Linked DNA regions of Homo sapiens: all the other regions are linked to region 4. The links come from fine-mapping of genetic effects on gene expression. A gene starts in region 4. Each other region holds a variant in brackets. All regions are shown on one strand. Distances are from middle to middle. Region 1 overlaps TMTC2 (transmembrane O-mannosyltransferase targeting cadherins 2). Region 2 has its middle 150 kb from the start of TMTC2. Region 3 overlaps TMTC2 (transmembrane O-mannosyltransferase targeting cadherins 2). Region 4 holds the start of TMTC2 (transmembrane O-mannosyltransferase targeting cadherins 2).

Region 1 (5,039 bases), 220 kb after region 4:
TAGAATCAGGTTAGGAGCATTACTTCTTTTTCATTCCCTCAAAGATTTTATGTAAAATTAGAATTATTTTTTTCTTCTATATTAGGTAGAATTTACCTGCAAAACTAGCTAGGCATAATGTTTTGGTTATAGATGACTCTTTTTTTTTCCTGTTGATTTAATTTCTTTCATAGTTTTGGAAAGAGCCAAATTTGCTTTTGGGTCAGTTTTAGTAACTTTTTTCTCTGTGTTTTGTTCAATTGGTACAATGTTACACATAATATTCTTGTAATATCTTTCTAAAAATCTCTGCTACAATTGTAGTTTTAAAAGTGTTTTTGCTTGGATACTCTTCAGGCAACAGATGTAGTATTGCCCCAAACTTTGTGAAGGTGGACCTACGCATAAGAATTCCCAAGGAATATTTTTGCCTATTTTCTGTTTGTCCAAATAGGCCAAACAGTCACCCATCTTTTCATTCTCTAAGTTTTTTAAATTTTTTTGTTGCTAGTTAAGTGATGAAGTCTGTTTCCTTTCAGGCAGATCACAGTTTATGTGGCTTCTGCAGTGTGACCTCCTGCATGAAGTTCATTAAAGCCTAAACCTAGGTTTATCTGTTTGACAGATCTAGTGTATGCAAGGTGAATACCATCTTCACAGCTAGTTTACTTTTCTGGAGTCCTGCATTCATGAAGGTTTTTGTTTGTTTGTTTTTGAGATGGAGTCTCACTCTGTCGCCCAGGCTGGGGTATAGTGGTGCGATCTCGGATCACTGCAACCTCCACCTCCCAGGTTCAAGTGATTCTCCTCCTTCAGCCTCCCAAGTAGCTGGGATTACAGGCACGTGCCACCACACCCTGCCAATTTTTTTGTATTTTTAGTAGAGATGGGGTTTCACCATGTTAGCCAGGACAGTCTCATTCTCCTGACCTTGTGATCCACCCGCCTCAGCCTCCCAAAGTGCTGGGATTACAGGCATGAGCCACCGTGCCTGGCCTCATGAAGTTTTTAGACTTCAGGTTTGCCCTTACTTTCCAACCAATTAATACATTCATTTGCAAATATTTTTATTTTTAATGTAGCATTTTTATTGGTTCTGTACAAGGTGTGATTCTCTGAACATAGAGTTTCACTATACTGTCAGAAAATGAGACCTATGAAATATCTTCAAATCTGACACCTATTAAGGAATGATTAGCTATGTTAGAAGTTCTATTTGAGAATAGAGTTAAGATCAGAGCTACTATTTTTGAAATATTTAATTCTCTTTCAGCAAAAGAAAACTTAAAAGAAGCTAAAAATATGTGTAAAAACACTATCAAATTACAGGTATTTGAACCCTCTAAAGCAGGGTAAAATATGTTCCTTCCTTTCTGTAATATAGATACAATTGCTGATATTGTTAAAGAGCAGATTTTCGAGAGGACAAACACCTGTCTTAGTTTTAGCCTTATCACGCACTGGTGCCTATTTCTGGTGATCATGGATTTTGAAGAGAATTCCAGATAAGTCTCAAGAAGTTATGGAAAAAATTGAGATATTCAAGTCATATAATTATTGTAAAAGGATTTGATGTAGAGGAAGTGTGAGCCGTATTTTAATTTTTATGCATGTGGGCATTAAATTAGAAATCTTACTGAAATGGGAAAATTTCCCCTGTCCCCCTCACAGCGCGTGTGAAGAGGGTGTGGCTCACTTCTTCTGATCAAACCTCTAGGGGAACATACGGACAGGCAGGCTCCAACCCCAGGCTCCAACCCCACGGCAGTGCCTAGGGGGTGAATGTTTACAGCTACTGAAGCCCCAGTGGGCATGTTACAGTATGCTCCTTTAGTTTAGCCCTCTATAGGCGGCTTGTGTTAGCTCAATTAGACCCCCTTCCTTATCACAAGGACAGAGGGATTTCTGTATCCCAGGGTTTCTTACCTTGGTGTATCAGAAGAATCGGATTACATGTGGGCTTGGAGAATGAGTGGAAGGTTTGATTAAGAAGTAGCTCTTAGCAGA[C/T]GGAGGGCCAGAAGGGAGATGGATTTCCCATGGAGTCCGGCTGCTCCCCAGCCTGGGCTCTCCTCTGATTGCTCCGGCCAAACTCTGCCTCATTTGGCTGGTGGATGTCCTTCTGGTATGCCCCTGTCTGTGTCCAGCCTCTTGTCATTTTCTGCAGATGTGTTCCTCTTGCCATCCAGCAGCAGCTTCTGTGTGTCTGCCTGCTAGGGTCTCTGGGTTGTTTTTTTCTTTTTTTTTTTTTTAGAGACAGAGGCAGAGTCTCGCTCTGTCGCCCAGGCTGGAGTGCAGTGGTGTGATCTTGGCTCACTGCAACCTCCACCACCCGGTTTCACGCCATTCTCCTGCCTCAGCCTCCCGAGTAGCTGGGACTACAGGCGTCCGCCACCATGCCCGGCTAATTTTTTGTATTTTTAGTAGAGACAGAGTTTCACCGTGTTAGCCAGGATGGTCTCTATCTCCTGACCTTGTGAGCCACCCACCTCAGCCTCCCAAAGTGTTGGGATTGCAGGTGTGAGCCACTGCGCCCGGCGGGTCTCGGGTTTTTACAGCCCCAGGGTTTGGGTGTGGGGGGGCCAGGGTGGTCTTGGAAAATGCAACATTTGGGCAGGAAGGCAGGAGTGCCTGTCCTCCCCTAGGTCTGTTGGGTGGAGCCCTAGCAAGGAACCATGCCCTCCTCTACCCAGCCCTTCCCCCACCCCCGCCCACCTCCAGCCTCTGTGTCATTTAAAGGGACCACTCTCTTCCCTTCCCAGCACTCTGTTATCATCATCACTTGACCATGGCTTCTCAGTGTAAATTTCTTTGCAGTTTTAACATTATCATCCAAGGGGATCTAGGAGGGACATAAATATCATGTGCTTGCTCAAAATGAAATAATGATCAAACATATTAGACGTTCTTTTTTAAAGAATGATAATATTGTTTTCTAAGTATAAGCCGTATTCTTATTTATTTTTTTCTTTTCTTTTTTTGAGATGGCGTCTTGCTCTGTTGCCCAGGCTGGAGTACAGTGGCACGATCTTGGCTCACTGCAACCTCTGCCTCCCGGTGCAAGTGATTCGTGTGCCTCAGCCTCCCCAGTAGCTGGAATTACAGGTGTGCGCCTGTAATTAACCATGCCTGGCTAAGTTTTGTATTTTTAGTAGAGATGGGGTTTTGCCATGTTTGCTAGGCTGGTCTCAAACTCCTGTCCTCAAGTGATCTGACCGCATAGGCCTCCCAAAGTGCTGGGACTACAGGTGTGAACCACCTCGTCCAGCCCATACTCGGATTTGGTTAGACAGTACCTAGAAGGAAATTTAGAACAACAAAAACATCATCTTGAGAGCAGAACTGTATTGGAGGTTTTATTTTGTCTTGTATTTAAGGATTCTAATTCCCAATAATACCAGCTGCCTCTCAGCCCATTCTTTCAGTGATCTTAAACAGCATAATTCAGTTCCTTTTTGCAAAACACATAAGATATTAAAATATCAGCATTAATATCTTTTTTGGAAGCACTTTAAACATATGTTTTAATTATGAAAAATTTCTCTGTAGACATTTTAAGTGTAGAAAGAAGGAACTGGGTTAGAAATGTAATATATCAGCTCAGAGTCAAGTTTTGACAAGAACAGATTACCCAGGTGTCAAAGCATGGCGTTTTCTTCTTAAGATGCCTGGAATAGCAGAGGAAACTTACAGTCGTTTAATATTTGGGGCTCTGTGTAGGAACTTGGAAGTCATATCATAAAGAAATGTGATTTTTTTTCTGCTCTTCTTACCTCTCCTTGCTTAGGATAAGAGAGTAAATATCTCAACTTGTATTTCATGAGACTACCAGCAAAGACCACAAGGTCTAAGATATTTTGAAATGTTTTCCTTTTTCACCAAGTCAGTTGACTTAATCTCTTTGAGATTTGCAAACAAGTTTTGATGGTTTGCAGTACTGGTGTTGAGTAATCTGAATATTTTCCAAAGATGATGGCATCATGTTACCTTCACAATTGTGGTTAAGAATGAATGGTGGTTGGGTGCAGTGGTTCTCGCCTATAATTCTAGCACTTTAGGAGGCAGAGATGGGTGGATCACTTGAGCCCAGGAGTTTGAGACCTGCCTGGGCAACATGGTGAAACCCTGTCTCCACAAAAAATTCAAAAAATAGCTGAGTGTGGTGGTGCATACCTGTAGTTGCAGCTACTTGGGGGGCTGAGGTGGGAGGATCACCTGATCCTGGGGAGGTCGAAGCTGCAGTACGCTATGGTCACGCCACTGCACTCCAGCCTGGGTGACAGAGTTGAGACCTTGTCTGAAAAAAAAAAAAAAAAGAATGGGTGGTAATATTCATATTCATGTAAATATTTACAATAATTTTAAGTTAGAAAGGAGTTTCTGTGCTTGCATAATGAAAACATTAGTATATTACGATTACTGTACAAACCCATGTATTCTGCATTTTTCTTATCTCTAATCACAGTGATAAATTTAAAATTACTTTTTGTTCTTGAAATGCTATTATTTGGAAGCAACAGTACAGAATTTTAAAATTTCTTTTGCCATTACACTTTAGCACAATGATTTTGAGATAGTTTTTGAGGGCAGTTGATGAAGTCACTAAAGTCCTAATGCCATGCTTCTGTTCTCTGTGGTACCATTCCAGAAGCAAGAGGCTGTGCACTGCTTTGGGCAGAGGACCATCATACTTTGGTTTTGGCTTTTGCTGGTTCTCAGCTCATTCTCACATTGAGCCTGGAGCAGACATTTACTTTTGAGGTTTTAAGTTAAAAATTAGGGTTTAAAGAAGTATATCCTAAGACCCAGTTCTGATTATTTGAAAGGAAAATGTGGCTTCTCTATGAGTTTTAATCATCCTGACATGTCAATAATCTGACAAGATTATTTAAAACTCATGAATAGAATATATGGCTTTATATCTAAGACCACACATCTAGTCATATTTTTTAATTGGTAATATTCATTAATCACTGGTTTTGACATATTTCCTGATTTTTCCTCTATCTTACTTAACCCTCTGGGTACTAGCTTCTTTTTAATACATGGAAGTATAACTTTCT
Region 2 (5,039 bases), 150 kb before region 4:
GGTCTCAAACTCCTGACCTCAAGTGATCAGCCACCCTTGGCATCCCAAAGTGCTAGGATTACAGGCATGAGCCACCGTGCCCAGCATATTTATACCTTTAAAAGAGCAATTATAAGTTTTTTCTTGGAAGTATCCATTGCCCTATTATAAAATTGCCTAAATGTTATGTTTCAGCACGCCAGTCTTTTATTCTCACTTCTTACCTGGAGTAGCCCCCGAATTTCATCATCGTTTTAGGACACAGGGTGTATTTTGCTACTACTTTCCCATCTTTAAAACAAGTAAGTGGACAAAACTAAATAGCTCCCCATCAAAATATAGATTAATAAATTCAGTCCTCTGGGCATGTTGCTTTATGAAATTGGTAGAAAAAAAATATTTGATAAGGAAGCCAAACTTCAATAAAAAGCCTATAATTAAAAAGCTTCCTATCACAGTATTCAAAGAGACAAATACCATTTATTTGTATTCAGGAAACTGACTTCTTTCATTTCAGCCCATCAAGAATATAATCTGATTTCAAATGATTATGTATTAACCTATGGTAAAGAATTGCTATTCTTTTGAGTAAAGAGGGAAAAAAATAGCATCCCATAAAGTATACAGGTAAAAGGCATTTGGAAACTGTGTATTCTTTTCACTTACTTGAGGAATGGTTATTCATTTGCTTTGGGAATTAACTTATTTAAGAATAAGATAGAGGTAGAGGAGATTTGGGAATGGAAGAGACTAAAAATCTCCATTTTAGGTCTAACATTTAAGTCTTTAATCCATCTTGAATTAATTTTTGTATAAGGTGTAAGGAAGGGATCCAGTTTCAGCTTTCTACATATGGCTAGCCAATTTTCCCAGCACCATTTATTAAATAGGGAATTCTTTCCCCATTTATTGTTTTTGTCAGGTTTGTCAAAGATCAGATGGTTGTAGATGTGTGGTATTATTTCTGAGGGCTCTGTTCTGTTCCATTGGTCTATATCTCTGTTTTGGTACCAGTAACATGCTGTTTTGGTTACTGTAGCCTTGTAGTATAGTTTGAAGTCAGGTAGCATGATGCCTCCAGCTTTGTTCTTTTGGCTTAGGATTGTCTTGGCAATGCAGGCTCTTTTTTTGTTCCATATGAACTTTAAAGTGGTTTTTTCCAATTCTGTGAAGAAAGTCATTGTTAGGTTGAAATGCAAATCAAAACCACAATGAGATACCATCTCACACCAGTTAGAATGGCGATCATTAAAAAGTCAGGAAACAACAGGTGCTGGAGAGGATGTGGGGAAATAGGAACACTTTTACACTGTTGGTGGGACTGTAAACTAGTTCAACCATTGTGGAAGACAGTGTGGCAATTCCTCAAGGATCTAGAACTAGAAATACCATTTGACCCAGCCATCCCATTACTGGGTATATACCAAAAGGATTATAAAACATGCTGTTATAAAGACACATGCATATGTATGTTTATTGTGGCACTATTCACAATAGCAAAGACTTGGAACCAACCCAAATGTCCAACAATGATAGACTGGATTAAGAAAACGTGGCTCATATACACCATGGAATACTATGCAGCCATAAAAAATGATGAGTTCATGTCCTTCATAGGGACATGGATGAGGCTGGAAACCATCATTCTCAGCAAACTATCGCAAGGACAGAAAACCAAACACGCGTGTTCTCACTTGTAAGTGGGAATTGAACAATGAGAACACCTGGACACAGGAAGGGGCATGTCACACACTGGGGCCTGTCATGGGGTGGGGGGAGGGGGGAGGGATAGCATTAGGAGATATACCTAATGTAAATGAGGAGTTAATGGTGCAGCACACCAACATGGCACATGTATACATATGTAACAAACCTGCACGTTGTGCACATGTACCCTAGAACTTAAAGTATAATAAAAAAAAAATCTCTGCTGAGATTTAATTGTGCAAATATAACCAGAAAAGAATTATAAGTACGGATGCAATTTGATTCTGCCATAGACCCAGGTGTTGAGCAACTTTTACTCTAGCAGGTATCTAAAAAAGGAGGTGAGTCCTCCAAGATCTATAAAAATGAGGCATAAGGGCATGGGTTTTTTGTGAAGTTCTGAATATTCCATTAGCATGTAATAAGTGTTAATAAATATCATCTGTAAAGTTTAAAGTGTTCATTCTCAACTCTGATTTCAAATTATGTACTTCATATGGTTGCTTGATTTCAGGAAAAGTAATTTCCAAGCTTGATCTGATACTTTTGGCTGAAGTATAACATCTAGGCAATTTCCTCTGTTGGAAAGGAGCCATTTTTATACTTAGCATATAAACAAATTATTTTTAGCGAAGGCTTCTTTTTAAAAATTTGTTCATAGCTGTATGTTGTAAAGATAACTACCAGTGAGTATTTGTATTTTTACTGAACATAGTGTCTAGATCTAGGAAAACACAAAGTGAAGTGATAGTTTGATGGTTATCAAGTGAATTTATGTTCTGGTTGTGGTTTTGTAATCACTTTCCTGTGCAAATACACAACCAGAATGCAAATTCTGGTTGTGGTCTAAGACCTCGTAATGCTTCATGAAAACAGAATGGTCAAGTATTATACATTTATTCTCATTCCTTATTTACCCGTAGATATTTGCAAGATAAATATATGGAAGACGTATCAGGAAGAGGTCTCTGATTCCTTCCTCTCAGTGGCTGTTATACAGAAGAAGGGCAAATCAGTTATCCATTGTCACAATAATGCTGCATAAAAAACACAGCACTTCAGTGGAACATACAATAATAAACATGAACTTATGAGTATACGGATTGACTGGTTGGTTCTGAAGTTCTGAGCTGGGCTCTGATGATCTCAACTGCGTCACTTATGCTTCTATAGCCAAATGGAAGGTCAGCTATGCTTCTGCATAGCATAT[T/C]ACATCCAACCAAGTAAAGTGATCTAGGATGGCCCCATCAGGGAAAACTCTGCCCACCACCAAGTTTTCCTCATTTCCCTTTAACAGGCTAACCAGACTTGTTTTCATGGTGGTGGCGAGAATCCAAGAGCGTGAGTTATAAGTGTACAAGGCCATTTGAGGTCTAGGACCAGAACTGAATTTCTTTTATTTGTGACATATTCTTTTGTTCAAAACAAGCCATAGGCTACCCCAGAGAGAGTTAAAGGCTGGGAAACACACTCCATATCTTAATGGAAGGAACTGGAATGTCACATCTCATAGTGAGTAGATACAGAAAGGGTTGGAAGTTAGGATATTTTTGCAATCAGTACACCATATAGAACTTAGGCCAACAATCTTTGTGGGGGACTATGTCTTAAAGCTGCATTTTGCACAGCAAGCACTCTGTTTTTATTTAGATTGTACATAATATGAATGGTGGTGTGATGCTATCTTTTTAGTGCTATCACGGTTGACACTATTTGGTATCATAAAGCACAGTGGAAATATCAGATAAACCAGTTCAAGTTTTTGGTATATTTTAATGGTTTAGAACTTCATTTACCTCAGTAGGTGTCTCCACTTACCACTAGCCTAATGTCGTGAAATCCTCCCTTCGATTTGTTCTGTGTACATAAAAGTGAGGACTTTTAAACAAGTTTTCCATGGAGATTATAATTAATGTCCCTATTTGACTTATTTGTATATATGCACACCCCTATCACTAATTGTCCTTGTGTAACCGAATGCAGTTTCAACTTCTCTCTGCTTGTAAAACTGAGTAACAAAGAAGAGATGCGGCAGAAGGCAAGTGACTTTACTTCCCAAGCTAGCAGTGGGGAAATGGTCTAGGCTTCCTGCCTTAAAGAAATCATTTCAAATTTGGGGGCAGAAATCTAGCATTTAAAAAGGGAAGCTTCATATGAAGGGAATGCAAGAGGGGAGAGGAGGTACAGGAACACATCACTTACTCCAATGCTTCAGCTTGAGTTATTGTCCCATTTGGTGAATGAGGTGGTATGGAATTTCTCTCTCTCTCTGTCTCTCTCCTCTCTCTCTCTCTCTCTCTCTCTCTCTCTCCCTCTCCCTCTCTCCCCTTTTCTCTTCTATCAGTTATACATTCATCCTTTTTATAATAGCAGCACTTTGATTTTTCTATAGGAAATTGCCCCTCCTTCTTTTCAGGAATAAAGTTAGAGGTGTTTGTCCTTGCCTTTGCCCTTGTCCCCATCCTCATTCTGCAGGACCACCTTATGGGGTAGGTTGGTGAGGTTGTAACTGAGGTGTGCCACTTCACCCTTTGCAGCATTCTTTCTTCCTATTAAACATTTCTTTTTCAAATCTATACTGTTGTCGGTAAATTCTTACGAACCGGCAAGTCGACCACTTCCTGATGCCGGGGTTCTGACACCTCGCCCAGCAATTGGAAATGTTTTCTATCTCTTAAAATTGGAGAACAATAAAATATATATCCCTTACATTTTACTACATATTTATTTTTCCTCACTTGCAAAAATTTGCAGAATGTTACTCTCACTCTAAGTTCTTATCTGAGGAATGTAATTAAAAATTCTTACTTTTAAAAAATCAAAAAGATACTGAACATTTGGATAAGTGAACAGTCATAGGAGGTGCCTGAGTGGGGATAGTGGTGGAGCATATAGTATTTGTTCATATCTGTTGACAGTAAAAAGAAGCTAAAAATAGTAGAAAGAGCATAATCTTTGAAGTTAGACAGACCAGGGTGCTAATTCTAGGTCAGCTGTTTACTAGCTTATGGCCTTAGCAAAATCACTATTTCTTAATCTTAAAATGTAATATATAACATTCTTCATACCAATTCTAATGAGAATTAGAGATAATAGGTAAAGTACTTGCCATGTTGTAGATGTTCAATAATTTATAGATACTATCATTACACATGTAAGTAGTAAATAAATTAACTTTACCTTAAGAGAGGGCTAGACTTTGTTTCCACTTGACTCTTGGGAGAAAACATCTGAACTGGAAATTCTTAAGTGATAGGAATGTCTTTGTTTTTCACAGTGGATCCCCTAGATTTGTAGTTTATGGTAATGAGGTGACTCAGGGTGAGCCCCTAGATAGTTTATGCTAACAAGAT
Region 3 (5,039 bases), 260 kb after region 4:
TTCCTAAAATTACGCTAACATGGAAAGTGCAGGCTGATGTGCAGCAGAATTTCAAGTAAATTAATTTCAATTTTCTCAGAAGGAGGTTTTGCATTATGAAAAAAGTTTCTTATTTCTCTGCTCCTGAAGAAAAATGAACAGATGTAAATTTATTTGTGTAGTTCCAATCAGTCCTCTGCAGATTTCCAATTACTGTGAGTTAAGAATTATTTCCTAGACACACCAGGAAATATAGTAATATTGTCTTTCACTTAATTTACTTTCTTTCTTGTACAAAACCTAACTGTGGTTTCCCCTATATGATGGAAAAGTTACTTAAAGTGTAATTGAAGTTTGAAGGACATCTGGATATTTAGATGATAGTGAATTTAAAAAATGAATGTGTCATCTGCTGCTTATTTTTTCTTACATATTATTTCTACTAAATAATACATTATTTCTATAGCTAAATTATATCACTCATTTCTTTCAATTCTTTGCTTCAATGTTACTCTCTGAATGAGGCCTCCTAGCCAATTCTATTTAAATTAGCAACCCATCTGCCTCTCTCAGACTTCTGTTCCCCTATACTTTATTCTTTAAAACATTGCATGTATTACCTTCTAGTGAACTATATAATTTACTACCTATAATGACAAATAATGATATTAAAATTAATGTAAACCTAGTTTACTTTGTATATTGCTAAAATGTAAGCTTCACCAAAGCATTGTTTTTATATATATTCTTAGTGTCTGCAATAGTGCTTAGCATATGTGTTCAATAAATAATAGTTGCATGCACATTGATTTAGGTACATATGTTTTCCTTAAATTCCTCATGTGTGAAGGGTGTACATAGATTACTTTAGAATCTTTCCTTCTCTCTTTCTCCCTTCTTCTCTCCCATTTACCCCTGCAGAATTAAAGAATACCTAAGGATGCCCTTTTTGCTTCACATCTCCATTGCTTTTAATCATTGTGCCTCTCATTTCATTTTGCACTTAGCGACCCTATTGTTACAGATGATAAGCTGAGGGTGTTTCATGGCACAGGGTTTGGGTAAAAGTGATGCCATCTTGCTATTCTGATAATAAGGAGGACAGTGTGAGGAAATGTCCAACAGCCATCTAGCAATAGAGAGACAGATGGAGCCTTGTTCTAGAAACCACATGTCATCATCAGACTCAGAGAGTAGGCATGCACTTTTCTTTTCTTTTTTTTTTTTTTGAGACAGAGTCTTGCTCTGTCGCCCAGGGTGAAGTGCAGTGGCGCCATCTCGGCTCACTGCAAGCTCCACCTCCCGGGTTCACGCCATTCTCCTGCCTCAGCCTCCCAAGTAGCTGGGACTACAGGCGCCCGCCACCACCCCGGGCTAATTTTGTGTATTTTTTAGTAAAGACGGGGTTTCGCAGTGTTAGCCAAGATGGTCTCGATCTCCTGACCTCGTAATCTGCCCTCCTCGGCCTCCCAAAGTGCTGGGATTACAGACGTGAGCCACCGCACCCGGCCCAGGCATGCACTTTCTTTAACAACAGAAATTTCTGGTTAGAACAATCCAAGTTGTCTTAAGTCTACAGGGTGACTGGGTTTTAACTGCACTGTTATTCTAAGGACAGCCTTTAAAAGATGGTATTGTGTTTGAGTGTGTCCCCTGTACATTTGCCTGTTTGAAATAAAATTTCTTTAGAAAAAAATCTCTAAATCTTCAAAGACCAACTTTAGTGTTAGGTGCAAACCTGGGCTGCAAAGTGTGTACTCAGTCTCCTGAAACTGGGTGTTGGAGCAGAGTGCAATTTTTTTTTCTTTTTTTTTCTTTTTTTTTTTTTTGAGACGGAGTCTCGCTCTTGTCGCCCAGGCTGGAGTGCAGTGGCGCGATCTCGGCTCACTGCAAGCTCCGCCTTCCGGGTTCACGCCATTCTCCTGCCTCAGCCTCCCGAGTAGCTGGGACTACAGGCGCCCGCCACCATGCCCGGCTAATTTTTTGTATTTTTAGTAGAGACGGGGTTTCACCGTGGTCTCGATCTCCTGACCTGGTGATCCGCCTGCCTCGGCCTCCCAAAGTGCTGGGATTACAGGCGTGAGCCACCGTGCCCAGCCTCAGAGTGCAATTTTTAATCAAAAGCAACAATCGATGGCTTGGAAAAATAAGCAAGTTGGCCATTTCTTACGCCCTGTTTTTTTGTTGTTGTTTTGTTTTGTTTTAAAGAAAAGTCAAGGGAAATAAGACCAGTAGCCTTATTAAATATAAGGGTAGAATGAATAGAAAAGAGAATAGAAGCAAGTGCTGCTGAGTGTATTTGCCAGTTTTCTCTTAATTTGGCATCTTGATCCCCAGACCTCCATCATTCTGTCAACGTCTCTCAGCCCTTTTTCTCCATTCTTCAGCCTTGTCTACCAATTTGGCTCCTGCTTCCATGACTGAAGCCGCTAAATGATGCCTATGGCAATGAATTGCTCCTCATTCTCTATGACCACTGAGTTCAGTGAAGGGGGCCATTCCTTTTCTGCACCAAAATTAAATCAACAAATGCAACTTTAGAAAGATTGTTACAGGCCAAGCTCAGTGGCTCACATCTGTAATCCAGCACTTTGGGAGGCCAAGGCACGAGGGTCACTTGAGCCCAGAAGTTCAAGACCAGCCTGGGCAATATAGTGAGACCTTGTTTCTATTTAAAAAGCAAAAATAGCCAGGCCTGGTGGCAAATGCCGATAGTCCCAGCTACTTAGGAGGCTGATGTGGGAGAATTCCTTAAGCCCAAGAGACTCAGGCTGCAGTGAGCCATGCTTATACCACTGCACTCCAGCCTGGACAACAGAGGGAAACCCTACCTTAATTTAAACA[A/AC]AAAAAAAAAAGATTGTTATGAATAGTGTTTTTCTTCTAATTCTGAAGTATTCAGGATAAACCTTCAAGTGAATTGTTGCTAAGTTGAAAAATCTATTCCAAGCAAAAAAATATATATATAGCTTCAGACTTTCATTTTTGGAACTCATCTTCCTTATTTTTAACTTAGAAACTGCTTGTATGACCTAACACCTATTCCCGCTGGTCCATAAGATACATGATACCTTTTCCCCTTTCATAATTTATTGCTTTAACAGCAGACTTTCATTAGTGCACTGCTGTTAAGGGACAAAGAAAACACCCACTTTGTTGAACATTTATGTTTAAAGTGAGTGCATTGCACTAAATCTCTGTGTGCCCATGGGGTCATCTCTAACCCAAATTATAACCATATCTGTGATGGAATCTTGCCGTGAAGCTTTTTTTTCTTTTTGTAATTTTTTTGAGTGTGTTGATTTCTGTAGAATTCTCAAAAGCTATTTTTTTTTTTCCTTTTTTCTTCCCTCTGCCTGAACAAACTTGTTTAAGTTAGGTTTTCTGGCTGTGGACTTCCATAGTGTATCATACTATACCAAAGCATTCAAAGCATATCAACTCAGCATTGGCGCTGCTTTTTAAATAATTTATCTTTTCTAATCATTAAACCTCCATAATGGTACTTTCAAAATATGTTTTGAATGAATAAACAAGTCAGTCTAACTACATTGAGTTTTACTGAGCAAGAAAGGTTTTGGCCTATGCTTGTATTCCAGCGTAGGAGTTCCTCTGCAGTGGTTACACACTCTCCAACTGATAGGTGTTTCTTCTCCAAGAAATTACATAAAGATTAGACGTCCATGTTGGATAGCACCTGCAAATAGCAAAGAATAGATAGTAAATCAGTATATAGGTTTAAAGTTAAATCATTTGTGGTTAGTGCCTTTAACTTGTGTTAGATGCTTTTCATTTCTTAATTTTGTTTGTTTTAAATAAAAATTCTCCCAGAGGATGAAGGAAATACTTGAAAGAGATTTGACTGTGATTCCAGAAGATATATATGGACTTACCAGAGTCATATTTGTTTTCATGGGAAGGGTAATGGGGAAAGGGGAAAAGTTGCTTTTTTAAAATTTTTTAAATTAAATTATCTGGCAACCTTGTACTTTGGAGGCAGCTCAGTGAAATACTTCAGAGCATGTCTTTGGCTTTAAACAGACTTGGCTTCAAATCATTCATTTATTGGTCCTGTGTCTGACCTTAGGCAAATTATTTAATCCTTATTCTTCATCTGCAACATTGGGTTGAGTTGCATTATATAATATAAGAGACGTTAATATAATGTCTAGAAATTTGATATAATTATATGATAATAAAATCTGAAGAGTTTGTTAGCTGGTAATTTTATTCTATTTCTTAGTGTTCCCTGGCTATGCCATTTTGGGGCTATGTCTTATCTCACTGGCAACCACGTCCATGAAGAGGAGTGAGTCCAAAGCACAAGAGTAACTCAAGGAAACCCCTTTATAAGTGTATTGGTTGTGATGCATTTCTTGGTAAAATAGAGGTTGACTGTCATTGGGAGGCTGCAGTTTATCTCACGATGCAAATTCAAGATGCTTACATGTTGGGAAGTGCATGTATAAATAAGAAAAGAAGAGAAATTTGTTGACTGAGATAATTAAGAAGCAGTGTGTATATGAACCAGAGAGAAAGGGCGGGTATTAATACTAAGCTAAAAGCAGTCACCTATTCCCAGTGTTGGTGATTTGAAGCCTGATACCTCTGAATTTGAATCTCATCTTGAGTCTTGACAGCTACATTATCATGGACAAATTATTTAAATTCTCCCCCTTCATTTTTAGACTCTAAAGTAAAAAGAATAATAATTGCTATTGCTAATTGCAAGGGTGGAAAGAAATAATATGAAAAACTTAAACCCCAAGTATTAATCTTTATTACTTCCTGTTGAGTACTGTTTTTAAACTAGGAAAATATATTCACACCTATTATTTTGACATGTGGAAGAAAATGTAGTCTTAGTTATATATTCAAAAGGTAGGTACAAAGTAAATTATGCATATATGAATATACAATGTAGTTCTCCGAATCCTAGATCCAACAATAACAACTAGCTGCATAGACTTAAGTTGCTTAACCATTCTGATCTTTGAACCCTTCATTTTAAGATAAGGTTGATACCTTTATGGGTTCATTGTGAGAAATACATAATAGTTGTA
Region 4 (5,000 bases):
ATCTTTTTAAAGTTTCTTCTCCGTGTCCAGATGTTATAGGCTCTGGGTTTTATGTGGAAAAGAAGACTGACAGGATCCCTGACCTCATGGAGCTTCCACTCAGTGGTGCTTCCAGATACTAATACATACTATGAAGAAACTAATACATGGTGGTTGGATAGAGATTGATGGGGGAGAGCCTACTTTATTTCTGAGGTTATGCCATTTGAGCTAAGACCTGAATGGTGAGAAGGAGCTAGAGAAGGTTTGAGGAGAAGAACCTCATGCAGGAGGAAGAGAAAGTGGTTAGTTCCTGAGAAGGATGTCTGTGTTGTACACATATGAACACAACATGAAGCGGGAGGGGTAGTCTGGGCTAAATGAAGGCTTGGCTGGCCATGGTAAGAATTAGTTTTATTAGCTGTAAAACAGGAAGTTGTTGGACATTTAAAAATACAACAGGAAGTTGTGGAACATTTAAAAATTGGGAATGTATAGGTTTTCAAAGGAAACTTCTGCCTAAAGTTAAAATTGGGGAAGGGAGGCATTGCAGGGGTAGAAGTACGGGGACCACTTAGAGGGCTACTGCATTTGTCTATGCAGGAGATGAGGGCAGCTGGGCTGTGGACTCAAGTAGTAAAGATGTGATAGGATGTGTTTTGGAGGTAACTGTCCAGGTTTTTGTTAACAAGTAAAATGAAACGAGGAAGCTAGAAAGCATAGTAATAATGATATACTAGCTAATACTTCTGTAGCACTTTCCTGGTCCCTTTTAGATATTTTACATAGGTTAACTACTTTAATACTCATAATAACAGTACTCATAAGATAAGTACTATTATTATCACTGTTTCATAGATTAGAAAACAGAGTCACAAAGAGGTTGAACGACTGGCCAAAGATCGCCCAAATAGTAATAGCAGAGTATGCACTCAAACTTAAACATCTGATCCCACAGTATGTGTTCTTCCTTCAGTGTTCTAGGACACCATATACATATTTTATATATACTATATATATCTCAGCATGTAAGTGCATTGGAGAGACACAGAGCATCAGGATGGACTAACTGATATGATTTTCAAAATTTTCAAGTGAGCAAAGGTTATGGAGGAAAAGGGTAAAAGATCAGTCCCTACCTGTAAAGACATAATTCCTTTTATTTTTGTTTACATATATTTGTCCAGGGCACAAAAAATGTGCTACTGTGGATGGCATAACAGGTATAATATTAATAAATATTCATCATTTTATCTGTGTGTATCCAATACAGATTTCTCAGATTTCCTTGTGAAATCAGGGAAATATGTAGCTTTGTTCTACAGAAGCCCAGACCACGGTATTTTCTTTCCAGGCCACTGCTAGACACCCAGGGGGCTCAATTTCTTGCCACAGTTTCGGAGAGCTTGCTGGTTAGGTGCTGCTCTTGGTTGGAACCAGTCGGCCCGCATGCAAAACAGACCTGTCTTCCACACCTTGTGGTTACTATGCAGCAGGGGGCGCTGCAGTAGTGTACATCGCGGTGCACCGGAGCTACTCTCCTGGCCAGAAAGCCAACAAGCCGGGAGGAGGCGTGTCAGGCAGCCCTGGGTCCTCTTTGGTCTTGCAACTTTAGTACCCAGAGCTTGTTCTACACAGACCATTCTACACCATATTTCACCATGTTGGATGCTTTCCATCCAGTCCTGCCTCCGAGCGGAAAGGAAAGGGCATTAGCTTACTGCCTTACTAGGTTTAAGTATAATGCTGTACCGGCTTGCACTAGAGGTTTCTCTCCTGTGTTCTCAGGGTCAACCCGACAGTCCCTCTGAAACCACGAAGGGGTCCCCGGGCAGTTGCTGCGGGGTGTGTGTGTGTCTTTCTTTCCCTTTTTGGGGTCCTTTCTTTTTAACCTTACTGAAGGAGGAAACGTTTCTCTCCCTACACGTCTTTCCACTGACATTGTGGCCAACCGTAGGCTAAGAGCTGAAATCTCTCCTTCCTAAGTTGCCTCCAAGCTCTCCAATACTACCTCCTCCCCCCCATTTAGTCTCACACACAGTGTGCGTGAGAGATCGCCAGTGAGTTTGTGACAACCGAAGCTGCAGCAGTCGCCAAACCTGTTCTTCCTCTCCCGGTCTCAGAAGTCTCTCCAGCTGACCGGACTTACGCCTGGCAGCTCTTGGCACACACAGCGCTGTGGCTGAGATTCAGCCGTGCCAGGCGCTGCCAGGCAGCAGCGGGGCGACCGACCACCTCCTCCTCGACCTCCTTTCTCCCAGCTTCCCCTCCCAGGGTGCACTGTATCTACTCCTTTGGGCTGTCTTCCAGCCGTCGCCCTTGGGTCCCGGGGGCTTTCCAGAGTGAAATCGAAGGTGAAAGAAACAAGAGGACGGGAGGCTGGTAGGAGGAGCCTCCAGGCCGGGGAGGGTGGGAGGAGCCTCCAGCCCGAGGGGCAGGGTAGGAGGAGCCTTCCGGGAGGATCTGGGTGGAGAAAGGGGCTGGGCCAAGCCGGGATGGAGGGTTGGTCACGCAGGCGCGGGGGGCCGCGTCGAGAACCCCACGCGGGAGCTTCTGGAGTCTCCAGCCACCGCTTCTCACTTCACTGGAGAAGGGAGCTGGGGCTGGGGCTGGGGCTGGGGCTGGGAGGGAGCTAATAAACATTGAATGTGCAGCAGCTGCCTTGGCGGCCGGAGTCCGCCCGAGCGACACCGGAGCAGTGCGCCCGGGAGGCGGCGAGGGGAGGCGGTTCGCCTTGTCCCTCCCACCCGCGCCTCTTTCTCTCTCTTCCTCCAGCTGGTCCCAGAGCCCGGCTTGGTCCGGTCCCTCTGCCCCCATCCCGCACCCTTCCACCTCCTCCGAGTCCCACTCCTCACCTAGGACGCCCCAAACTGCCATGGGTTAGGGTGGGGATCGCGACCCGCGCGAAAGACCAGCCCTGCGCTTCCGCCGGGGGACGCGGAGCCCAAACGCCGCTCACCGCTTGCGGGCGCCGGGCATGGGGAGTGTGGTGTGAGCCCGCACCCGGGGAGGACGCAGGAGCTGCGGAGACGGGCGCGAGGAGGAGGAGAGGAGTCGTGGATTGGAAGGACCCGAGGGAGGGAGGGTGGGGAAGCGAGGGAAAAGTGAAGCTGGGAGGAGAAGGCGGCGGAAGGTGGAGATTGATGCTTCTGTTTTTTGTTGCCGCTGCTGCCCTCGCGCTGGGAGCCGAGCCGGAGGGAAGGCGGTGGAGAGATGATTGCAGAGTTGGTGAGCAGCGCTCTGGGGCTCGCCTTGTATCTCAACACCCTGAGTGCGGATTTCTGCTATGATGACAGGTAAGGGGCCGAGAGGAGGGGGCGACGGGCTGCAGGGGGCACACTCCGCAGTGGCTCTGAAGCTTCCCTCTTTAAGGCTCAAAGTGCGTCTTGGAGGAACTGGTTCAGCACCTGATGGTTTAGGCGACACGTAAACATTAACACCTAAATCAAACACCGGGGACGTGAGGCGCGCTGGGCGGGCCGAGGGAGTTTCCGCTCCTAGTTTGCAGCAGGTTCTCTCCCTTGCTTCTCGGCTGTTGGCAGACGCTTGAGTTTCTTAGCGGAAATCCCGGCAATTTGGGAAACTGTTTAATGAACGTATTAAATTAAAGTCTTAGGTATTCCTTGATGCAACAAAGCACATTAAGTGATTTTACGTCTGGTTGGGAGGAAGCCTCTCCTCGATCCCTGATAGATCCTCCCTGTCCCGTTTCCTTTTATTGATGGGACACTTTTATTTCCCGAAGTTAAAACACACGTTTGATAGTTGCCAAAATTGTGAAAAGGGAGATCGTTCTCTGCTTTAACTTTCCCTTTTAACGTGTATAGACTTTTACTTTGAGCCAAAATAATGCTGCTGATGGTCTCTCCCGCCGCCCTAGCCTCCTTCACCAATCCATTGGGCAGCACTTTATAAAAGCCTCGGCTTTCTCATTTCTGTTTGGGAGTTGTACATTAGATGTTAGTGGTTCTTTTGTACTAATTGGAGAAGAAGACGCCCCTAGAGACTGAAGTTGTCTTCTGCACTTAGGTTAGTTTGGGTGGCTAATGAGACCTGAACTGTGTTGTCAAAGAAACTGCATCGATTTCTGGAAAATGTCACCGTTGTGTTGGTGTCTCTTCCTATCTTTTAAACGTTATTAGTGTTCAGAAAGTGATGAAAAGCCCCTATATCCATTAGGGAAAATTCCAATTTGTGTCCTTCCGGTGTCTTAATCTGATTACAATTAAAACAGATGCATAATTAAAATATATTAGGGATAACAGCACGCCTGGCTAAACTTATTAACCGTCCTGGGGTGTTTCATGCTCCATTGAAATTAAACCATCCAAAAAGTGAGCACAGATTTACTTTGACAGCTTTTCAGCAGCCTCTCTGAGCTATGAAAAGTGAATGGATCCCCAGGGTTAGGGCGAGGCAGTGAGAGCACTTACGCAAAGTGGTTGACAGTGAGGGGAGGTGAAGGCAGAATCTTCTTCTCGTCGTAATTAGCCACATTCTGTATTCTCTGGTGTGCCCATTCTCCTGCTAAAAGCATCTTCACATCTCTGTTAAAAAATCACCTGATAATAGGTGCCAGAACATCCAGCAAACCCGTCTTAATGCATTTTATGTAGTGCCTACCAGAGGCTAGTTGATAGGGAACCACTGTTAGACATACATTTTTTCTTAACTTTTACGCAGCATACTGATTTTAGCAACTACACAGCATGCTCTGAGAAATGGTCTGTAGGAGTGAGGTAAATTTCTGTTCTCTCCAATTTTGTGTAATGGTGCACCTGCTATTTCTAGCATATTCGTGGAAAAAGCCCTTGTTTCCAAAGATGGGTGACTTTTCACTAAAACCAGCTTGGGTCAGTGTGGGCAGTTACTGGCTCTGTTGGGGGCGGTTTGAATAGTAAGCATTTAAACCAAGAATATAGAGTTTATTTAAAAAAAGAAACTTACTATAATAATGCAACTTGATGGGTGACTTTTCACTAAAACCACCTTGGGTCAGTGTGGGCAGTTACTGGCTCTTG

The links. PIP is the estimated chance that this variant, and not a neighbour inherited with it, causes the effect. A credible set is the group of variants that fine-mapping cannot tell apart.
Region 1: its variant is the best candidate, but not a certain one, in a credible set for the expression of TMTC2 in cerebellar hemisphere (GTEx, PIP 0.82).
Region 2: its variant is the best candidate, but not a certain one, in a credible set for the expression of TMTC2 in tibial nerve (GTEx, PIP 0.86).
Region 3: its variant is the best candidate, but not a certain one, in a credible set for the expression of TMTC2 in whole blood (INTERVAL, PIP 0.51).

What each region holds. Positions count from the first base shown.
Region 1 is chr12:82,908,664-82,913,702 of GRCh38, forward strand. All of the region lies in intron 3 of TMTC2 (transmembrane O-mannosyltransferase targeting cadherins 2), which reads left to right. Among named protein-coding and RNA genes, the nearest start is that of TMTC2, 220 kb to the left of the region's middle. The variant C/T (reference allele first, on the strand shown) is at 1,987.
Region 2 is chr12:82,531,271-82,536,309 of GRCh38, forward strand. No RefSeq gene overlaps it. Among named protein-coding and RNA genes, the nearest start is that of TMTC2, 150 kb to the right of the region's middle. RefSeq lists a silencer at 1,537-1,741. The variant T/C (reference allele first, on the strand shown) is at 2,897.
Region 3 is chr12:82,945,552-82,950,590 of GRCh38, forward strand. The region is part of intron 4 of TMTC2 (transmembrane O-mannosyltransferase targeting cadherins 2); the gene reads left to right. Among named protein-coding and RNA genes, the nearest start is that of TMTC2, 260 kb to the left of the region's middle. The variant A/AC (reference allele first, on the strand shown) is at 2,824.
Region 4 is chr12:82,684,395-82,689,394 of GRCh38, forward strand. It overlaps TMTC2 (transmembrane O-mannosyltransferase targeting cadherins 2), which reads left to right and starts at 2,512. Exons shown (of 12, transcript NM_152588.3): 1 at 2,512-3,275. The coding sequence starts at 3,193. RefSeq lists silencers at 1,463-1,542, 2,393-2,492, 3,063-3,112, 3,473-3,532 and enhancers at 1,973-2,122, 2,143-2,352.